Homo sapiens: one gene and its partners. The protein of the gene in region 1 interacts with the protein of each later gene in a pairwise test. Each region holds a gene or a part of one and is shown in the gene's direction. Other genes may lie near its edges. The genes, in order: TNRC6C, CNOT10 and PAN3.

Evidence for each region.
Region 2: the proteins of TNRC6C (region 1) and CNOT10 interact in binary tests that used the Homo sapiens proteins (3 or more experiments, as listed by UniProt).
Region 3: the proteins of TNRC6C (region 1) and PAN3 interact in binary tests that used the Homo sapiens proteins (3 or more experiments, as listed by UniProt).

Annotation. Positions count from the first base shown.
Region 1 is NC_000017.11:78,087,694-78,094,803, forward strand, and holds part of TNRC6C (trinucleotide repeat-containing gene 6C protein), read left to right. Parts: intron 1-3,746; coding exon 3,747-3,914; intron 3,915-5,239; coding exon 5,240-5,431; intron 5,432-5,926; coding exon 5,927-6,070; intron 6,071-7,110. UniProt on the Homo sapiens protein: Plays a role in RNA-mediated gene silencing by micro-RNAs (miRNAs). Required for miRNA-dependent translational repression of complementary mRNAs by argonaute family proteins.
Region 2 is NC_000003.12:32,758,102-32,765,211, forward strand, and holds part of CNOT10 (CCR4-NOT transcription complex subunit 10), read left to right. Parts: intron 1-1,356; coding exon 1,357-1,470; intron 1,471-4,631; coding exon 4,632-4,762; intron 4,763-6,353; coding exon 6,354-6,389; intron 6,390-6,580; coding exon 6,581-6,708; intron 6,709-6,948; exon of another isoform or gene 6,949-7,076; intron 7,077-7,110. UniProt on the Homo sapiens protein: Component of the CCR4-NOT complex which is one of the major cellular mRNA deadenylases and is linked to various cellular processes including bulk mRNA degradation, miRNA-mediated repression, translational repression during translational initiation and general transcription regulation.
Region 3 is NC_000013.11:28,141,480-28,148,589, forward strand, and holds part of PAN3 (PAN2-PAN3 deadenylation complex subunit PAN3), read left to right. Parts: intron 1-7,110. UniProt on the Homo sapiens protein: Regulatory subunit of the poly(A)-nuclease (PAN) deadenylation complex, one of two cytoplasmic mRNA deadenylases involved in general and miRNA-mediated mRNA turnover.

The DNA of each region.
Region 1 (7,110 bases):
AAAAAGCAGTGGTTGTTGATACAACTCATTTTGTATGAAATGTGATTTGTATAATCGACCAAATCAACATATATATGTTGAAATCTAACTTGTAGAAGCACACTCAGCACTTGAAACCCGCAGGTCAGTAGAAGACATGGTGCCAGGCCTCGAGGTCAGGCCAGTCAGGAGAGACACAGCTCACATACCTGAAGACACCAGAGGGTATAAATTAGTAAATTGATTCTGCATGGACTAATTTGCCGTAAGAATTCAGAAGTTAGTGAAAGCACTTTAGGCTTGTCTGTTGATTGCTATTAGAGTCTGTAGATACAGGACAAAGGGTTATCGGTAACTTGGAAAATACATCTGTAAAGGGGCAAAGGCCAGTTGAGTGGTAGTGAATTTGCTGCCAGCAGATAATATTCATTTATCTAATTCTATTCAATGTCTCTGAAAAGAGCGGTATATTGTAATCATATGAATCCTTTTTACTTGACATATTATAAATGTGGTATATCTTTAATATGAGATTGATAAATACTAGACTAGATGATCTCGTTCCTTAATTATTGTCTCATCCATTAGAGCCCTTTGTGTCGAAGTAGGTAAGACCTGACTTAGGAATTAGACTCCCTAGGTTTGAGTCCCAACTCACCACCAAGAGGCTCACTACTAACTTGGGCAACTTGCCTAGCTGCTGTTTGCTTCAATTTCTTTATTTTTCTTTCTTTTTTTTTTGGTAGAGACAGGGTCTTTCTATGTTGCCCAGGCAAGTCTCAAAACTCCTGGCCTCAAGTGATCCTCCCTAAGTGTTAGGATTACAGGCCTGAGACACCATACTGAGCCATGCCTTAATTTCTTCATCTGTAATGTGGAAATACTTAACTCCTAGGTTTGTTTTAAAGATTAAATGAGCTAATATGTAAAGTTCTCTTTTTTCTTTTTTTTTTCTCTCTCTTTTTTTTTTTGGCTGGAGTGCAGTGGCGTGATCATAGCTCATTGCAGCCTCAAACTCCTGGCCTTAAGTGATCCTGCTGGTCTCAGCTTCCCAAAGTGCTGTGATTACAGGCATGAGCCATCACACCTGGCCTAATATGTAAAGTTCTTAAATAGTGCCTAGCACATAGCAAACACTTTGTAAAATGTCAGCTACTTATGTAAGTGCTTCTGTTTTAGAAACAAATTTCATCCCACCTATTATCCTAAAATGCATTAGCTTCAGCTTTCTATTATTCACCTGTCTTCTTAACCTATATTTGGAGGATAAAGTACACTTATCGTTACTTTTTTTTTTTTTTTTTTTTTTTTTTGAGATAGAGTCTTGCTCTGTTGCCCAGGCTGGAGTGCGATGGCGCAGTCTCGGCTCACTGCAACCTCCACCTTCTGGATTCAAGCAATTCTCCTGCCTCAGCCTCCCAAATTGATGGGATTACAGGCATGCATCACCACGCCTGGCTAATTTTTGTATTTTTAGTAGAGACTGGGTTTCACCATGTTGGCCAGGCTGGTCTCAAACTCCTGACCTCAAGTGATCCGCTCACCTAAGCCTCCCAAAGTGTTGGGATTACAGGCGTGAGCCACCGTGCCCGACCACTTATCTTTACTCTTAAGGATTTTTTCTCTTAGTACAAGTTAAAGAATTCATGCAGTGAATCTTTGAAATTAGTTGAAAAATAATTTGGATAATATTTTATAATATTCACAGTAAAGTTATAAATGTATTAAAAGCAAATAACTAATAAAGTCTAGGAAACTTTGGTTGTAAAATTGCCTATCTTGTTGGCTCTCAGCATTTCTCTGCAGCAGCACCTATGTTGAAGAGCCTGTTAGACACTCATCAATTCATGTAAAGAAACCAGCAGCCCATGGTCAGTAGTGGGGGCTCCTAGCTACCTTCCTTCCCTCATGTTCAGCCTGTCGTTGTTATTCTCAGTCTTTTGCCACCTGGAGTTCGCCATCTAGATAGGAAGAGCAGGCATATAAATGGGAAAAAATAACCTTGATACCAGTGTCATGTGATTCTTACAGGGCTCTAGAGAAGGAAAAGTTCACTTTCACTTTGAGTGGTGAAAGAAAAATCAGAGAGTAGGATTAAGCTTGAACCTCAAATGATTGGATAGGATTACAGTAAATAAAGAGGAAGCCTTTCCAAATAAAGGGGAAGCCTCACGTAGCACAGAAGAAAGAGGCCTGGCTTGTTTCAGGGGCCCATTTTGCAAGGGCCAGGCCAGTCTAGCTGACTTTCCCAGAGGGGAAAGTTGGGAGAGATGGGTTGGCGCCAAATTGTGAAATTTGGAGCATTCTGAAGGCCAGGTTGAAGCCCTGACATTGTTGCCACCTTACCTGGCTAGATCTGTACAAGCTGAAACGAAAAGAACCCACACAGCAGAGATTGCAAGTAGGCAGCCCTGTGGCACTGATGGGCTTGCAAAGGCGTTTTGTTAGGTCTGCGAAGTGTGTGTGTGCATGTGCATAGGTGTGTGTTAATGCCAACATTCAAAAATTGGGGAAAGTGGCTTCTGGCTTCTCTTAAAAATGGCTATAGTGGGTCTATGTTCCAGGTAGCAATAGGTGGTTGGCCCCAGTAGCACCTGTTTATTTAGACAGGACAGACACTCTCTGGTTTGCCACAGTCCCCATGAAGCCCACTTCTTCATGTGCATGGCCCACCTGGCTCCTATGGGCATTTGAATTTGCAGCCTCTGAAATAAAGGTAAGAACCAGAATGTTCAGCACCTGGCTAAGTAGTAGAGGCTCACTGTGCTTACGTACCGTGTGGCGTAGTACTTACGGTAAGGACCTATGGGGTATGTGTATGTGGTAAGGGGAACTGCAGCTGGAAATACAAGGGGAGGGGGGCGCTTGTGCTGGTTATTCCCTTCCAAACAAGCAGTCTGTCCTGCTCCAAACTAGTGTCCTCATCAGAAACTCTTTACTTCAACCTTCTTTTCATTGTCCTCCTCATCATCTTTCTTTATTAACCTAGCTTAGTGCAGGTCCTGGACAAATAACCAGGTACCTGCTTTTAGCTATAAGGAATGAGCCCAGAAGCCTCAGCTCACCATCCCAGCTGGGGGCAGATGGCAGCACCCCCGCTGTCAAATAGTTCAGTTCCTTAAAAGTAGTTTGATACTTAATTCACAGACTCTTTCAGAGCAGACTTTTGTAAAGGAAACTCACTAAAGGTAGAACTGAATTATCCTATCAGTCTGTTTCATAGGTGGTACTTTAGAGTTCTGGAAAAGTGTTTTTGACCTGATGAGTTTCCGTAAGATATCCCAAAACAAAGAAAGATTTTCCTAATAGTTTGGACTTTTTCTATTTTCCTGTGGACTCTGAGAAGCCTCAGGACCATGTTTATTCAGCACTGAAACAAGTAAAATGAAGAGAATTGTGGGCCTTACTTAATCAAAGACTATTCACATTTTCACCTTAATTTAGGAATAATATTCCTAGAAATACATGTTGTTATGACGATAAGTAGTATTTTTTCACCAGCACTAAAAGTTATAGTTAAAATATTTTGCTGTATCCCAGCTACTTGGGAGGCTGAGGCAGGAGAATCGCTTGAACCTGGGAGGCGGAGGTTGCAATGAGCCAAGATTGTGCCATTGCACTCCAGCCTGGGCATCAAGAGCAAGACTCCGTCTCAAAAAAAAAAAAAAATTTGCTGTAAGCGAAGACTGAAATAGCTTCTATAGGAGAGCTTTAGAATGAAGTCATTTAGAGGAGCAGGCGAATCCTAACCGCATCTCTCTCTTTAGCTGGACTGAACCCAAACATGAATGTCAACAGCATGGACATGACCGGTGGCTTGTCGGTGAAGGACCCATCCCAGTCCCAGTCACGCCTCCCCCAGTGGACGCACCCCAACTCCATGGATAACTTGCCCAGTGCCGCTTCCCCCCTGGAGCAGAACCCTAGCAAGCATGGTACGTCTGAGCTAGGATGCCTGTGGTGGGATCACTGCTGGCTTATTAATCGATCGTCCTGTTGTATAGCATGGCCATTCTATACTTTTCTAAGAATTGAGCACTGAAAGTTGGATTTAAAATAACCCATTCCATTATAGTGCATATAAGATCTCAGCTAGTCACTGATCAAACTTCTTAAAACCCAACCATTAGATCTTAGCTACAAACTTAGAAATAATTTGAAAACCCCAGAGCAGCAAAGAATCTAGGTCATAGCCTGTGTACTTTTTTTATGTATCTATATTCATCAACAAAAACTTGAGTCTGCTGAAATGTTTTCAATAAAATGGTAAAACATAAATAGAAAATCAAATATACAGTATGTATGGGAACTGCAGCTGTAAATACTAGGGTGCATTTCTGTTGGTTATTCCCCTCCATCCAAGCAGTCTGTCTTACTCCAAACTGGTGTCCCCATCGGGAACTCTTTACTGATGGACACACGAGTAAGGTGGAAGCAAAAATGATAACCATAGGAGGTAATCTCACTCTCAAGCATTAAATTTAACTCTGAACTTCCTGGTAGAATAAACAGCAAAGGAAATTCAGTAGGTTACGTAGTTCTCTCTTGATAGGAAGCATTCTAAAAAGAAAAAGGAAACTATGTCTCATGGTTAACTTACGGAAAATCATCACACACTGCTGGCACCTTTCTTAGCAGGAGGGCTCTGCTGCCTGTAGCTGGTTGGTTTGGTTCTGTATGAATTTTTAACATCCACTGTGTTCTTCCGTAGTGAGGGTTTCAGACTAAAAGGAGGGAAGAGATAACAGCAAATTTGATAGCTAATCACAAAGACTCATAAGTTGTCCCCAAAAAGATTTATTAAGGGCAGCTTCCCATGGTATGGATATGTATTTTGTAAAGACTTCTTACTGGACAAACTGAAATTGTTCTTCAAGGGTTTCAATCTTTCAGGGCTGAAATTGTAGCTAACTGAAACAGTCACTGGCCAGGCATGGTGGCTCACACCTGTAGTTCCAGCTACTTGGGAGGCCAAGGTGGGAGGATCGCTTGAGCCCAGGAGGTTGAGCCCTGATCACATCACTACACTCCAGCCTGGGCCACAGAGTGAGAAGTTGTCTCAAAAAAATAAATAAATAAATAAATAAAGTCATTGATTCTTACAGAATCCTAGACAGACCAAGTCTTACAATTCATGTAACTGAATAGGGCAAGGCATTGGACCTAGAACAGAAGGTACATAGGGAGGCTTAGGGTATCTTCTGGTGTCTCTCAACTGGAGAGTATTCACTCGCTTCTTTGTTTCCTATTGTCCCCATAGGTGCTATCCCTGGAGGTCTAAGCATTGGGCCTCCAGGTAAGTCCTCCATTGATGACTCCTATGGCCGGTACGATTTAATCCAGAACAGTGAGTCACCAGCCAGTCCTCCCGTAGCTGTTCCCCATAGCTGGTCACGTGCCAAATCTGACAGTGATAAAATCTCAAATGGCTCTAGCATCAACTGGCCCCCAGGTAAGACCATGCAACACTTCTGTGCAACAGCAGCAGGTCAGAATGTGCTCCAAGCCTGCAGAGAGTGATTAGGCTGAGAGGACCCAGAATCTGAGCTAAGGATCTGGAAGCGTTAAGCCCAGAGCTTTGGCATTTTCCTTGGAAATCCATTTGTCAGATCAATTTTGGGTATGGTTAGCATCAGGCATTTTTCTGTAAACCCTTAGTTCAGCATGAGGAGTGGAAGGGGTGGCAGGGAGGAAGCACACTGCACACTATCCGGTAAAACTATTCCAACCCTGTGTGAAAACTAGCTTAATATGATAGCTGTGATACCTGGTTCTAGTTTGTTCCAAAGGATTGATTGCTTTAATGAAAGAGAGTATAAGGTGTACCTCTAATTTAATTAGCAGATTATAAAAATTTCTACAAACAGGACAAAACATCTTTTAAAATTTCGTGAATCAATGTGCCGGTGTTCTGATCTGTGGCTTCTCATTTTGGTTTCTTAAACAGAATTCCATCCGGGAGTTCCATGGAAAGGACTGCAGAATATTGACCCTGAGAATGACCCTGACGTCACTCCTGGCAGTGTCCCCACTGGGCCTACCATCAACACCACCATCCAGGATGTCAACCGCTACCTCCTCAAGAGTGGAGGTGAGGGTGCTGCTCTTCCTGCCTCTGCATGGACGGTCTCTCTAGACCCATTTGGAGATGTCAGGGGTGACAGGTTGGGCTGTGAGGCAGGGATGATACAAGGCACAGTTGGCGGGCACCTTTTCTAGTCACCTGAAGCAGCATGAAAAGACAGCAGGTAGTGCTTATGGAGAAATGGAAATCAATTTGAGTTTCTGCTGGATTTTTTATTATTATTACTTTTTTTTTTTTTTTGCGATGAAGTCTCACTCTGTCGCCCAGGATGGAGTGCAGTGGCATGATCTCAGCTCTCTGCAATCTCCACCTTCTGGGTTCAAGCGACTCTCCTGCCTCAGCCTCCCAAGTAGCTGGAATTACAGGCATGTGTGCCACCATACCAAGCTAATTTTTGTATTTTTAGTAGAGACAGGGTTTTGCCATGTTGGCCAGGCTGGTCTCGAACTCCTGACCTCAGGTGTCGCCCATGCTGCTGGATTTATTGATAAGTAATGTCTTATCATAGAAGTGCCATCTCTGATAAAGTTTTATCACAGCATGCTATTTTGTGGAAGGAAGAGCTAGATTGCCATAGGTACTATCACTAATAAGGCCACCTAGATAGTTCCCAAAACATTGAATTTCCCACTTGAAATATGACTCATTGGAGCCATGTGTTTTGTGTTTGCTTCTTTTGTTTCTTTTTTTTTTTTTTTTGAGACAGATTCTCGCTCTCTTGCCCAGGCTGGAGTATAGTGGCGTGATCTTGGCTCACTGCAACCTCCGCCTCGCAGGCTCAAGTGATTCTCATGCCTCAGCCTCCCGATTAGCTGGGACTACAGGCGTGCACCACCACACCCAGCTAATTTTTTCTATTTTTAGTAGAGATGGGGTTTCACCATGTTTGCCAGGCTGATCTCGAACTCCTGACCTCAAGTGATCCGCCTGCTTTGGCCTCCCAAAGTGCTGGGATTACAGGCGTGAGCCAGTGTGCCTGGCTGCTTCTGTGGTTCTTTAAAGTGATAGGCTTCTAAATGTGCCTGTGGTTTGGCTGGAAAGCCAAC
Region 2 (7,110 bases), on another chromosome or scaffold:
AAGAACAGCGGATTGGGAGTCTACAATGTCAAATATTAGACCTAACTAATCACACACTAAGCTAAAGATTATGTTTACTCACTTTGAGTCTCTGTTTCCACATCAGTTAAACAAGGAACCACACTAGACAGTCTTTCAGCCCTCCCATGGTAGTATAAGGCATAAACCTCAATTTCGTTATGCTTCTCAAGGACCACTCTACTTTTCTGTGTTGTTAAGAGTTGAGGGGCTGCCTTTCTAAGATTCTAGGAACCAAATTCTAGGGTAGTTTTCTAAGATTCTAGGAACCAAAAGTTAGCAAGTGAAGAGGAAACAGAATACTTTTGAATTTGCCCAGCTGTGCTTTTTATAGGAAGAGCCATTTCTAGTCAGAGGATTTCAGAACATTTCAAAACTCTGTGGTGATATACTGGTTACATTCTTCCTTAGACTAAAATTACAACCTGAATGCACTTAATGATACATATGTGTATTGTAATTTGTAAACATAACTCAAAACCCTGTATCTGAGTGAGGTCATTTGTGGTTAGCCATTCAGACTTCATTTCTATTTGACAAGGGTTTATTTTAAGATTGCTTTGTGGAGCAGTTGTTTAACATTCAAGTGATCTATTAGTATTAAGTCTTTAACCAGACTTGTTTTAAATGAGCTGTCTGTGAAGTAGAAAACCAAATATTATAGAAACTTAGATTTCCAATCCAACTTAGCGAAATCAATGTAACTTAAACGTTGTCTTCACATATGTTTGTTTAACCTGTTTTTTTTCCTTCAGTATTCCTTTAGAAGAATAGTAACTGTGTGAATAAAACTTTTTAGTTACTCTTGATACTATGGTTTAGCAAGAACTGTAGACTTAATTGGTTGAGAAAAGAACATTTAAAGTAAATGAATGCTTTAGTAAGTTAATTATTTCTTAGCATATCACAAATATATGTAGAAAGAATAAGATCTCATTCTATAGCTTTATTCCTAGGTTATTAAAAGCAAACTTCTATGGAAGTTAGTTCTCATTAGGCTATATATATATAGTGTGTGTGTGTGTGTGTGTGTGTATTTATCTATACATATATACATACATACATACATACAGGCTATGTATTGTAATCCATTGGTTATTTTGTTGGGGATGTGGGTCAATTGGATGAAAGCTAAAGATGACTTATGTAAATAGCCAAACTGTGTTTCAGAATTGTTTTATACATCAATCTAATTCTTACCATTAGTACCGTGGCTTCCTCTCCTCTTTCCTGGTGTCCAGATTGTCACAGCTAAAGGGCATTTCTTCCTATTTAGCAAATATAACCATTATCAATGTTTAAAATGAGATTTTCGGCCCCTTCCCTTTTGTGTTATAGGTGCTCCATACTTGCTTGCAGTGCCTACGTGGCTCTGGCTTTGGGTGATAACCTCATGGCTTTGAATCATGCAGATAAACTTCTTCAGCAGCCCAAGCTGTCAGGATCTCTTAAGTAAGTGTGACTTGCCCTGTGTGTCCCTGGTTTCTTTAGTTTTGAGGTTTCTCCTTGGTTTGTGGTTTATGTTGCTTCTTTTGACTCCTCCAGTGGAATATATATTTGTAAGGAAAGCAACTGTTTAAAAGAACGTTTTTTAACCCATGCCTCGGCAGTGAAAATGTTTTCACTTGTGCTGTACTGAGCGTTAGGAGACAAAAACTTCGGACTCTAGTGTCCACTTCTAGGCTTCACTGCAGCACTTTAATTCTCCAAATAAGTCAAGTCCTCAGAGAGAAGACCTACAAAAAAAGGAGTGTGGTCAATGTGATAAATCTACTTTGAGGGACCAGGCACGGTGGCTCACGCCTGTAATCCCAGCACTTTGGGAGGCCGAGGCAGGCAAATCACGAGGTCAGGAGTTCAAGACCAGCCTGGCCAACATGGTGAAACCCTGCCTCTACTAAAAATACAAAAAATTAGCTGGGCGTAGTGGCGGGCACCTGTAATCCCAGCTACTCAGGAGGCTGAGGCAGGAGAATCGCTTGAACCCAGGAGTCAGAGGTTGCAGTGAGATCTCTGCACCACTGCACTCCAGTCTAGGCTACAGAGCAAGACTCTGTCTCAAAAAAAAAAAAAATAGACAAGAATTTGAAAAATCTTTCCAAGCTACTGTATCATTCCAGAATCAGCTAGTTTTAGTCAAACTGCAAATACTTCTTCATTAATATCATTGTCATTCTAAAATTTTCCAAAGCACATTATCTTTTCTTTTACCAAAATTGAGTAAAATACAGGCCAGGTGTGGTGGCTCATGCCTGTAATCCCAGCACTTTGGGAGGCTGAGGTAGGCAGATCATTTGAGGTCGGGAGTCTGAGACCAGCCCAGCCAACGTGGTAAAACCCCATCTCTACTAAAAATACAAAAATTAGCCAGGCATGGTGGCAGGCATCCATAATTCCAGCTACTCGGGAAGTTGAAACAGGAGAATCACTTGAGCCTGGGGGGCGGACGTTGCGGTGAGCCACGGTTGCACCATTGCACTCCAGGCGGAGTGACACAGCAAGACTCCCTCTCAAAAAATAAAAATAAAATACAGCTTGAATTTTTGTATGGTGCTGATCCTGGAAATTTTATCAAAAGCCACGAGTATTCTGCACAACATTAGAACAGTTCTTTCATTCATCGTATAGGTGTATACTTACAAATGCCAAAATATAACTACTTACTCTTTGGCTTTTTAGTGATCCCCAAACATACCTAGTGTTTTTGTTTTTTTTTTAAGTAATTAAGGCCAGGCGCTGTGGCTCACACCTGTAATCCCAGCACTTTGGGAGGCCTACCTGGGCAAATCATTTGAGGTCAGGAGTTGGAGACCAGCCCTGCCAATATGGTGAAACCCCATCTCTACTGAAAATATGAAAATTAGCCGGGCATGGGGGCACACTCCTGTAATCCCAGCTACTCGGGAGGCTGAGGCACGAGAATTGCTTGAGCCTGGGAGGCAGAAGCTGCAGTGAGCCAAGATTGTACCACTGCATTCCAAACTGGGTGACAGAGTGAGACTCCATCTCAAAAAAAAGTAATAAATCATTCAACTATATAAGAGACTTTGTCACAATTCAAATATAAGGGAGCTCCTGCTCTTCTGCAAGAAAATCTTGTCCAATATTCAGGCCTGGAGATGGGGAAGATCCTAATTTTCAGTTCAAGGCATTTGGGTTGCCTCTAAAGTACCTTCCGTCCTTATCATTGCCCAACTCAAAATGCCAATGTTGGGAATTGCAGCTGATGCTGGTGTTCAGATTGTGGTGTATACGGCCATTATGAGAGAACTGGACTTTGTGTGTTTGTGTGTGACTGAGTCTGTCTGGGTCACCCACACTAGAGTGCAGTAGCACAATCTCAACTCACTGCAACCTCCACTGTCTGGGTTCAGGCGATTCTCCTGCCTCAGCCTCCCGAGTAGCTGGGATTACAGGAGCCCACCACCACACCCGGCTAATTTTTTTTCTTTTTCTGAGACAGTTTCACTCTGTTGCCCAGGCTGGAGTGCAGTGGCATGATCTCAGCTCACTGCAACCTCTGCCTCCCCAGTTCAAGGGATTCTCCTGCCTCAGCCTCCTGCGTAGCTGGGATTACAGGTGCACGCCACTATGCCCTACTAATTTCTTTTTTTTTTTTTTTTCTTTTTTTGAAACGGAGTTTCACAGGCATGAGCCACCGCACCTGGCTACTTTTTGTATTTGCTCTTATTGCCCAGGCTGGAGTGCAATGGCGTGATCTCGGCTCATCACAGCTTCCATCTCCCGGGTTCAAGCGATTCTCCTGCCTCAGCCTCCCAAGTAGCTGGGATTACAGGCATGCACCACCACGCCCGGCTAATTTTGTATTTTTAGTAGAGATGGGGTTTCTCCATGTTGGTCAGGCTGGTCTCGAACTCCCGACCTCAGGTGATCTGCCATCTTGGCCTCCCAAAGTGCTGGGATTACAGGCATGAGCCACCATGCTCAACCTGGAGAGTTTTAAAACTATAAAAGTTTAGTTTGTGGTGGTGTTGTTCTTGTGTAGAAAGTCATTAAGATTTTGAGCAGATCAAAAGGTCCCCAGTTAAAAAAAAAAAAAAAAGCTGGGCATGGTGGCTCACGCCTGTAATACCAACACTTTGGGAGGCCAAGACGGGCGGATCACGAGATCAGGAGATCGATCTTAATTTTTATTTTTATTTTTTTTGAGATGGCGTCTCACTCTGTCATTCAGGCTGAGGTGCAGTGGCATGATCACTGCTCACTGCAGCCTCAGTCTCCCATGCTTAAGTGATTCTCCCACCTCAGCCTCCTGAGTAGCTGAGACTACAGGTGTATGCCACCACGCCCAGCTAATTTTTGTATTTTTTTTGTAGAGACAGGGTTTTGCCATGTTGCCCACGCTGTTCTCAAACTCCTGGACTCAGCAGTCCACCCACCTAGGCTTCTTGAAGTGTTGAGATTAAAGGCATGAGCCACTACACCCAGGCAGTTGATTCGTTTTACCTAAATAAATTTAGATTTCAATTTAAGGACATGAAATATGAGACCTATATCCAATGTATAATAACATAATATACCCAGCATTATTTTACATTGGGTATTTTTGTGACGTTGTACTTTTCAGTTTGGAATCTGTTTTTTCATTTTAGGTTTTTGGGACATTTATATGCTGCAGAAGCCCTCATCTCTCTCGACAGAATATCTGATGCCATTACTCACTTGAACCCGGAGAATGTCACTGATGTCTCCTTAGGGATCTCTTCAAATGAGCAGGACCAAGGTTAATGAGGACATCTTTGATCAGAACTGGTCACTGTTTCCATTTCCCTCCTGTCATAATTCAGGATGTGTGGAAATTTAGGCATGGTGGTAATGAGAAGAAAGTTTTAGGTTGGCTTTCCACATTTTTGTCTGTACTTACTTTGTAGCAGTTGTTTGCTAAGTAGACCTGAGAGTTAATGATCACATCATCTAAATTCTCACTTTTGAAAGGCTGGTACTGTTAGAATGGTTAATTTTGGTTCTGATACTATTTATTTGTTTTCCTTTGGAGTGATTCTAAAATCCATAGGGGAGTAAAAATATTGCATTCAAGAGTCAGTTTTAGTCCAGGCGTGGTGGCTCACGCCTGTAATCCCAGCACTTTGGGAGGCTGTAGCAGGAGGGTCACTTGAGCCCAAGAGTTCAAGACCAGCCTGGGCAACCTGGTGAGACCCTGTCTCTATTTTAAAAATAAGGAAAGAAAAAAAAGTTTGTTTTAAGTCATTGCTAAATTTCTAAATAATTGTCGGGTGCGGTGGCTCACACCTGTAATCCCAACACTTTGGGAGGCCGAGGCAGGTGGATCACCTGAGGTCAGGAGTTCAAGACCAGCCTGGCCAACATAGTGAAACCCCGTCTCTACCAAAAATACAAAATTAGTAGGGCGTGGTGGTGCAAGCCTGTAATCTCACCTACTCAGGAGGCTGAGACAGGAGAATCGCTTGCACCTGAGAGGTGGAGGTTGCAGTGAGCCAAGATCACGCCACTGCACTCCAGCCTGGGTGACAGAGCAAGACTCTGTCTGAAGAAAAAAAAAAAATTAAATAATTAAAGCTATGTGACATTCATTTTACTCAAGACTAGTGCTCAGGTTTGAGATGGTGGTGGGTGGTAGCATTCTGGCATTTTTTAATGGAATCTCCACTACATGAAAAGTAAATAAATTGCTTTATATTAAATTTCCATTTCATAAAGAAAGTTAGGTTTTTAGAAAATATGCTCTCAGCTGGCCACAGTGGCTCACACCTGTAATCCCAGCACTTTGGGAGGCTGTGGTGGGTGGATCACCTAAGGTCAGGAGTTCAAGACCAGCCTGACCAACATGGTGAAACCCTGTCTCTACTAAAAATACAAAATTAGCCAGGCATGGTGGTATGCCCCTGTAATCCCAGCTACTCAGGAGGCTGAGGCCAGAGAATCACTTGAACTCAAGAGGCGGAGGTTGCAGTGAGTCGTGCCATTGCACTCCAGCCTGGGCGGCAACAAGAGCAAAACTCCATCTCCAAAAAAAAAACCAGCCTGACCAACATGGTGAAACCCCGTCTCTACTAAAAATACAAAAACTAGCCAGGGATGGTGGCACATGCCTGTAATCCCAGCTACTCAGGAGGCTGAGGCAGGAGAATCGCTTGAATCCAGGAGGCGGAGGTTGCAGTGAGCCGAGATCATGCCCCTGCACTCCAGCCTGGGCAACAGAGCGAGGCTCCATCTCAAAAAAAAAAAAAAGAAAAGAAAAGAAAATATGCCCTCTACCTTCTGAGCCCGAGGAGAAAAGAAAGAAAATATGCTCTGTTGTTCTGCCCCTCAGATTTATTTTCGTGTTTTTGTAGGATCAGACAAAGGTGAAAATGAAGCAATGGAATCCTGTAAGTAAGAAGTTTTGTGATACTTAAGTAGCCTGGCCTGCATCCCAAAAATTTAGATTCTAAATCTTCTGTGTTCGTTTTTCTGCCTGAGGAATACTGCTGTGCCAAGTGGCTCCTCAAGGCGATAGATTGGGTTGCTTCCTTGCTGTTGGCACGGCCTCTTCACCAGTGTCTACACTCTTTTTCCCCAGCTGGTAAGCGGGCCCCTCAGTGCTACCCCAGTTCCGTCAACTCTGCCAGGACTGTGATGCTGTTCAACCTTGGCAGCGCTTACTGCCTGAGGAGCGAATATGACAAAGCCCGAAAGTGTCTCCACCAGGTGAGTCCAGAGTGGGAGGAACTGAACCTTGTAAAGCAGCCAACACAAGTTTGAGGTTTATATTTTTTGTTACTTTGTTTGAAGCATCTGATCAGTTTGTTAAATATTGGAATATCACTTTCCCAGATATAAAAATATTCTTGCAAGGTAAACAACTAATCAGCATTGTAAATGAACCTAGACACTTAAAGGAAAGTTCTTCTTGATGATTTTATTTTAAAAAAAATTTTTTTTTGCCAGGCACAGTGGCTCATGCCTCCCAGCACTTTGGGAGGCCGAGGCAGGCGGATCATGAGGTCAGGAGTTTGAGACCAGCCTGGCCAATATGGTGAAACCCCATCTCTACTAAAAATACAAAAATTAGCCAGGTTGGTGGCACGCACCTGTAGTCCCAGCTACTCG
Region 3 (7,110 bases), on another chromosome or scaffold:
TTTTTGAGACGGAGTTTCACTCTTGTTTACGAGGCTGGAGTGCAATCTAGTGATCTCGGCTCACCGCAACCTCTGCCTCCCGGGTTCAAGAGATTCTCCTGCCTCAGACTCCCTAGTAGCTGGGATTACAGGCAGGCACCACCACGCTCAGCTAATATTGTAGTTTTAGTAGACACGGGGTTTCTCCATGTTGGTCAGGCTGGTCTCAAACTCCTGATCTCAGGTGATCCGCCTGCCTCGGCCTCCTAGGGATTACTGGCGGGAGCCACCGCACCTGGCCGAGGATTTTCTAATTAACACACAATAGGTAGAAGGGCTGAGACTTGAAAGAGGACAGGATGTAAGCAGATGAAGATGGGAGGGGAAGGTAAGTACCCTTAAGGTGGAGGAAAAAATATTAGCAGTGGCTCAAAGGTGGGACATCTTAGGAAAATAACTGAGATATAGGGACTCGAGAGGACAGGCAGTTAATGCTGAAAAGGTATTTTAAAATTAATACTTTGTCACTTGTTAGTAAAAGTTGTCTGATTAAATAGTTGATTTATGTATTTAGATTCTGTGGTGTTTGCTTTAGCTTGTCTGGCTGAAGCCTAAGGCTCCTCTTTTCTGTGATAGGCTTCTTGGTATCTCTCAGTAATTCCTTATGGATGGAGATTTCTTCATAAGGAATCACAACCTAGGTATTACTGAGAGATACCAAGGAGTGGGAAATAATGTTGCTCAGGAATCAGGAAAAAAGGTTGTGTTGGTAATTGTATGGCTTTTTTGAGTTTTTACACTTATTGTTCATTTTTTAGACTGCTTTCTACCTTTTACTGTATTCTCATTCAGTGTGTTTTGAGACAGTATTGATCCGTTTATTTTATTTTGAAGAGATGATGTCTTGCTGTGTTGTCCAGGCTGGTTTCGAACTCCTGGGCTCTAGCAATCTCCTGCCTTGACTTCTCAAAGTACTGGGATTATAGGTGTGAGCTACCACATCTGGCCTTCATTGGTTAATTATGTGTGTGAGGCAGTTAAAATAGATGGCAATTTTTTTTTTTTTTTTTTTGAGACAGGGACCACAGGCACTGGCTACCAAGCACCTCTAATTATTTTGTATTTTTGGTAGAGATGAGGTTTCCCCATGTTGCCCAGGCCGGTCTCAAACTTCTGGGCTCAAAGCGATCTGCCTACCCTGTGAGCCACCATATATACCATAATTTAGTGTTTTTAATTTCTATGTTTGTGGGTTTTGATTGAATCATTTGACAACAAAAGAAACAAAAGATTTAATATAGAAGTACAAATTTCTGGTTTCCCTTTAAGGATGTCTCTTACCTGTGTTGGAATTAGAGCTGTTGATAGAGCATAATTCTCTCCATTTTGACTCATTCCCTAACTGGATGACTTTTATATCTAGGCATTTGAGGTTTTGACTCTAACTTTAGCACTTCACATTTGCAGAATTGTTTTTGTTTTGTTGGTGTTTCAGATAGTGTTAAAACCTTGGAGGTGGGTGCATGAGAAAACTTTATCTTTATTTTGCAGCCATTGGAAAACTGAAGCACAAAGGCTTTTTCTTAATACACTTAGTTGCAATGATGTTTCAACCTTATAAGGAAACTGCAATTTGATTTTTTGTTTTTGTTTTTGTTTTTGTTTTTTTTGAGGAGGGGGTTGGGAGTTCTTGCTGTGTTGTCTAGGTTGGACTCCAACTCCTGGGCTCAAGTGATCCTAGCACCTCAGCCTCCTGAGTAGCTGGGACTACAGGTATGCCGTACCATGTAGCTTACGTAACATTTCGTATTTCTGTTAGTCTTGGGATTTTTCTAAGGCTTAAGAGTGATTTGATTTGTATTCAACTGCATTATCGATTCTTGACATTTAATGATGTAATTCTAATATTTTCAACTGGCTAGATTTTCAAAATGGCTTTAATCTTCAAAGTGTACAATTTTTAACAGGTAAAATATGCCAATATTTGTATTTTATGTACATTATTTGAAACCCAGTAGTTTTAATTTACCAAAATACACTTTTCAATTCTCCTAATGTAGTTACTAGTGAATAAGACATGTTTCAGATAGAATCCTGGCTCTTTGACTAGCTTTGTGACTGAACGAATTTTTAACCTTTAAGCCTCAGTTTTTCTCATCTGGAAAATGGAGATGTTATGAAAATTGCATGGCATTGCCTGCACATATTGAGGTTTCAGTCTTAGTTATTGCTATTATTAAATATTAATAATCTATAGTTAACCTCTGTATTTCCTTCTTCAAATTTTTGAGGGCATACATTGAAGACTAGTAAAATAGCTACAGATTATTGAATTGTGATTGTCCAAATGGAGGAGAGCAGTGCCATGGATAACTTGAAGTTCAAATGTTAGCTTTGGAATATGTAATGTGTAGCGTGTGGCAAAGCTGTTTTTGTTTAAGCCAAGACTAGCCTTTTCATCCCACAAACCTATACTAAGTGACAGAGAAGTGAGTACTGGCGATTTGCTGTTAGGATAGCTGGCATAAGTTTAAACATTTTTATTGGAATAATATACTTAGTATATCATGAAGGCTTTATAATACTGTTCATTTCACTCATTTAATATCCTGCTTCCAAGGTGGTAAGCTCTGATTAAGGTGATAGGAACAACAACAGCAACAAAAAAACATAATTCAGCCCTAATGGAGTTTACATTCTAGTGGGGCTATAAATATCTATAAGGTAATACTTGGTTTCGATAAGTTTTTTTGTTTTTTTTTTTTTTTTTTTTTTTGATATGGAGTCTCGCTCTGTCTCCCAGGCTGGAGTGCAGTGGCGCAGTCTCGGCTCACTGCGAGCTCCGCCTCCTGGGTTCACGCCATTCCTGCCTCAGCCTCCTGAGTAGCTGGGACTACAGGCGCCCGCCACCACGCCCAGATAATTTTTTTGTATTTTTAGTAGAGACGGGGTTTCACCGTGTTAGCCAGGATGGTCTCAATCTCCTGACCTCATGATCCACCTGCCTCGGCCTCCCAAAGTGCTGGGATTACAGGCGTGAGCCACTGGGCCCGGCCGGTTTCGATAAGTTTTATGAGGAAAACTCGAGGGATAACGTAACTCCAGGTGAGATTGAGTTAACAAATAAAGCACTTTTTCCTGTAAAAGTGCATTTGATGAGATCGGGCGTGTTCAGAGTGGTATGATCATAGACTGAAAGTGCATTTGAAATGACCCTTTAAGAAGATAAATGATTATCAAAAGCAAACCAAAACATCATCTTTTTTTTTTTTTTTTTTTTTCCTCAGAGCCTCACTCTGTAGCCCAGGATGGAGTGCACTGGCGCCATCTTGGCTCACTGCAACCTCTGCTGCCCAGGTTCAAGCGGTTCTCCTGCCTCAGCTCCCAAGTAGCTGGGATTACAGGAGCCTGCCACCGCGACTGGCTAATTCTCGTATTTTTAGTAGAGATGGGGTTTCACCATCTTGGCCAGGCTGGTCTTGAACTCCTGACCTCGTGATCCACCTGCCTCAGCCTCCGAAAGCGCTGGGACTACAGGCGTGAGCCACCGCGCCTGGCCCAATATCATCCTTTTATATGCCATTTTGAGGAATTTTTCCCCCAATTTTAAATGAACTTTTTATTTTGAGATAATTATAGAATCACCCGAAATTGTAAGATACAATACGGATATCTCATGTACTCTTCTTTTATAAAGGATAGTAACATCTTTTGTAGCTGTAGTACAGTATCATGGCCAGTATTGATTGCTGTAGTCTACTTGTTTACATTTCCACGGTCTTATTTGCACTTGCGTGTGTGTGTGTATGTGTGTACATATTACAGATCGTGCCTAACTTAATGGTTTGGCTTTCAATTTTTTGACTTTTTTTTGACAATTTTTTGAGACAGAGTCTCACTCTATCACCCATGCTGGAGTGCAGTGGTGTGATCTCTGCTAACTGCAACCTCCGCCTCCTGGGTTCAAGCAATTCTCATGCCATAGACTCATGAGTAGCTGGACTTACAGGCACATGCCACCGTGCCTGGCTAATTTCTTTGCCTTTTTAGTAGAGACAGGGTTTCACCATGTTGGCCAGGCGGGTCTCAAACTCTTGACCTCAAGCAATCTGCTCACCTTGACCTCCCAAAGTGCTAGGATTATAGGCGTGACCCACTGTGCCTAGCCTAATTTGTTTTTAACTTTTAATTTTTTTTTAAGGAGACGAGCTGGCCTTGAACTTCTGGCCTCAAGCAATACTCCTGCCTTGGTCTCTGAAGTAGCTGGGGTGACAGGTGGAAGCCACCGTGCCAAGCTAATTTTTTTTTTTTTTTTTTTTTTGAGACAGTTTCCCTCTGTCACCCAGGCTGGAGTGCAGTGGCGCAATTTTGGCACACTGCAGCCTCCACCTCCCAGGTTCAAGTGATTCTCAATTCTCATGTCTCGGCCTCCTGAGTAGCTAGGATTACAGGCTTGCGCCACCACGCCCAGCTAATTTTTATATTTTTAGTAGAGATGAGGGTTTCACCATGTTGGCCAGGCTGGTCTCGAACCCCTAACTTCAAGGCTGCCTCAGCCTCCCAAAGTGCTGGGATTGCAGGTGTGAGTCACCATGCTTGGCCCTCAGTTTTTACATGATGAAAGGTACACTTTTTTGGTAAAAATTTACATTGGAATAGAAGTGTATAAAGTCAAAATAAATCAGTCTCCTCATCTTATTGTCCAGGGTTAATCATTATTAATAGTCTGTGTGTTTAGATCTTTTCTACACATTGTATGGTATAGACATATATCTAGTATATATATTAAAATATATGTATACCATATATACCTAAATATATATATTTTTTCCTCTTTCTCTGTCTCTCTCTCTCTCTCTCTCTCTCTCATATTAGCTTGGGTTGCCAAAAGAAAATATTATAGGCTGGGTAGTTAACTTCCCCCTGCCCCTCCTCCCCCCATAGATCCAGGAACTTGAGTGGCTAGGTGGTTTAAATAACAGAAAAGTATTTTCTCAGACTTTCAGAGGTTGGAAGTCCCAGATGAGGAGTTGGGTTCCTGGTGAGGGCTCTCTCCTGGCTATATTATCTAGGTATGTGAGCACCCAAACCTAGATGGTATAGCCTACTGCATGCTAGGTGATATGGTCTATAACCTGTTGCTTCTAGGCCACAAATTTGTACAGCCTGTTACTGTACTGAATACTTTAGGCAGTGGTATACAAAGGTAAGTATTTGTGTATTAAAACATTTAAACAGGCCAGGCGCAGTGGCTCACACCTGTAATCCTGATACTTTGGGAGGCCAAGGCAGGCGGATCATGAGGTCAAGAGATACAGACCATCCTGGCCAACATGGAGAAAGCCTGTCTCCTAAAAATACAAAAACTTAGCTGGGCGTGGTGGAGCACACCTGTAGTCCCAGTTACTAGGGAGGCTGAGGCAGGAGAATTGCTTGAACCCGGGAGGCAGAGGTTGCAGGGTTGCAGCGACCTGAGATCGTGCCACTGCATTCCAGCCTGGTGACAAAGCAAGACTCCGTCTCAAAAAAAAAAGGAAAAGAAAAAAATAGAAAAGGTACAGTAAAAATATAGTGTTACAGTTTTATGTGATCACCGTCATACATTTGGTTTGTTATCGACCAAAACATTGTTACCAACAAATCAATATATGTTTGTGTCTCATTTCAGTACTTAGTAATTAGTACTGGACCGAAATTTTAATTTTATTGCGGTTTCTTACAAAATAAAACTAGCCTTTGGCTAGTCATTCGGTCTGTGTGAAAATACATTTCTTTGCAGATGGTCCCCACATTTTGAATTTACAATTCATTTATCAGAATGTAGCCCCATCCATAAGTCTAAGGAATATCTAGATTTACGATGATTCGACTTCCAGTTTTTGACTTTAGGATGAGTTTATTCAGGCATTAAACGCATTTTTGACATAACAGTACTGACTTAAAATAGTTACATCCCAATAAAACCCTTGTTAAGTAGAAACTATTGTTAAGTTGAAAATGCGTTTAATTCACCTAACCCATCAAACATCATAGCTTAGCCTAGCCTACCTTAAATAGGCCCAGAATGCTTACATTAGCTACAGTTGGGCAAAATTACCTGACAGCACAGTATACTGTATCAGTTGTTTACCCTCCTAATTGAGTGGTTCACTGGGAGCTGTAGCCTGCTGCCATTGTGCAACTTTGTGACATAGTATGATACCACGAATCACTAACCTGGGAAAAGATTAAACCTCAAAATCTGAAATATGGTTTCTACTGAACTCATATCATTTTTCACATCATCATAAAGTCAAACCATCATAGTCAGTTGGGAATTGTCTAAGTAAGGGTATGCAGATCTCACTAATCCTGGCTGAGTCAGTTGGCATGTAGGTAATAGCCCTCTTCCCTGAAAAAAGCTTTGTCTTTTCTGATACCTCTTTTGGCATTCTCTCTCTTGCTTTTTCTGTAAAAAATAAAGATACTGTTCCTATTTTTCTAAAGCTAGTTTGATTTTTTTTTCTTTTCTTTTTGAGACAAAGTCTTGCTCTGTTTCCCATGCTGGAGTGCAGTGGTGTGATCACAGCTCTTTGCAGTCTCGACTTGCTGGGCTCAAGCGATTCTTCTGCCTCAGCCTCCCAAGTAGCTGAGACTACAGGCATAAGCCACCATGTCCAGCTCCTTTTTGAATTTTTTGTGGAGATGGGGTCTCCCTGTGTTTCCCAGGCTGTTCTCTAACTCCTGGGCTCAAGTGATCCTCCTGTCTTGGCCTCCGAGAATGTTGGAATTAAAGACCACCACACCCTGCCTAAAGCTAGTTTTAAATTATAGCGTGTGTGTTTGTATATATATATTTTTTAGAGATGGGGTCTTGCTCATTTGCCCAGGCTGGAGTACTGTGGTACAATCATAGCTCGCTGCAGCGTTGAACTCCTGGGCTCTAGCAAATCTCTCTCCTCAGTCCACTGAGTAGCTGGGACTACAGGCATGTACCACCATGCCTGGTTATATATTTTTAATATTTAAAAAAATGCCAGTGTCAGAAAAATAAGAACAATATCTTGTTTTTGGAATTAGAAATGTAATACATGCACAGGTTAAAAATTTAAATAGTGCAAAAGAGTACATAGTGAAAAATAGCCTCCTTCC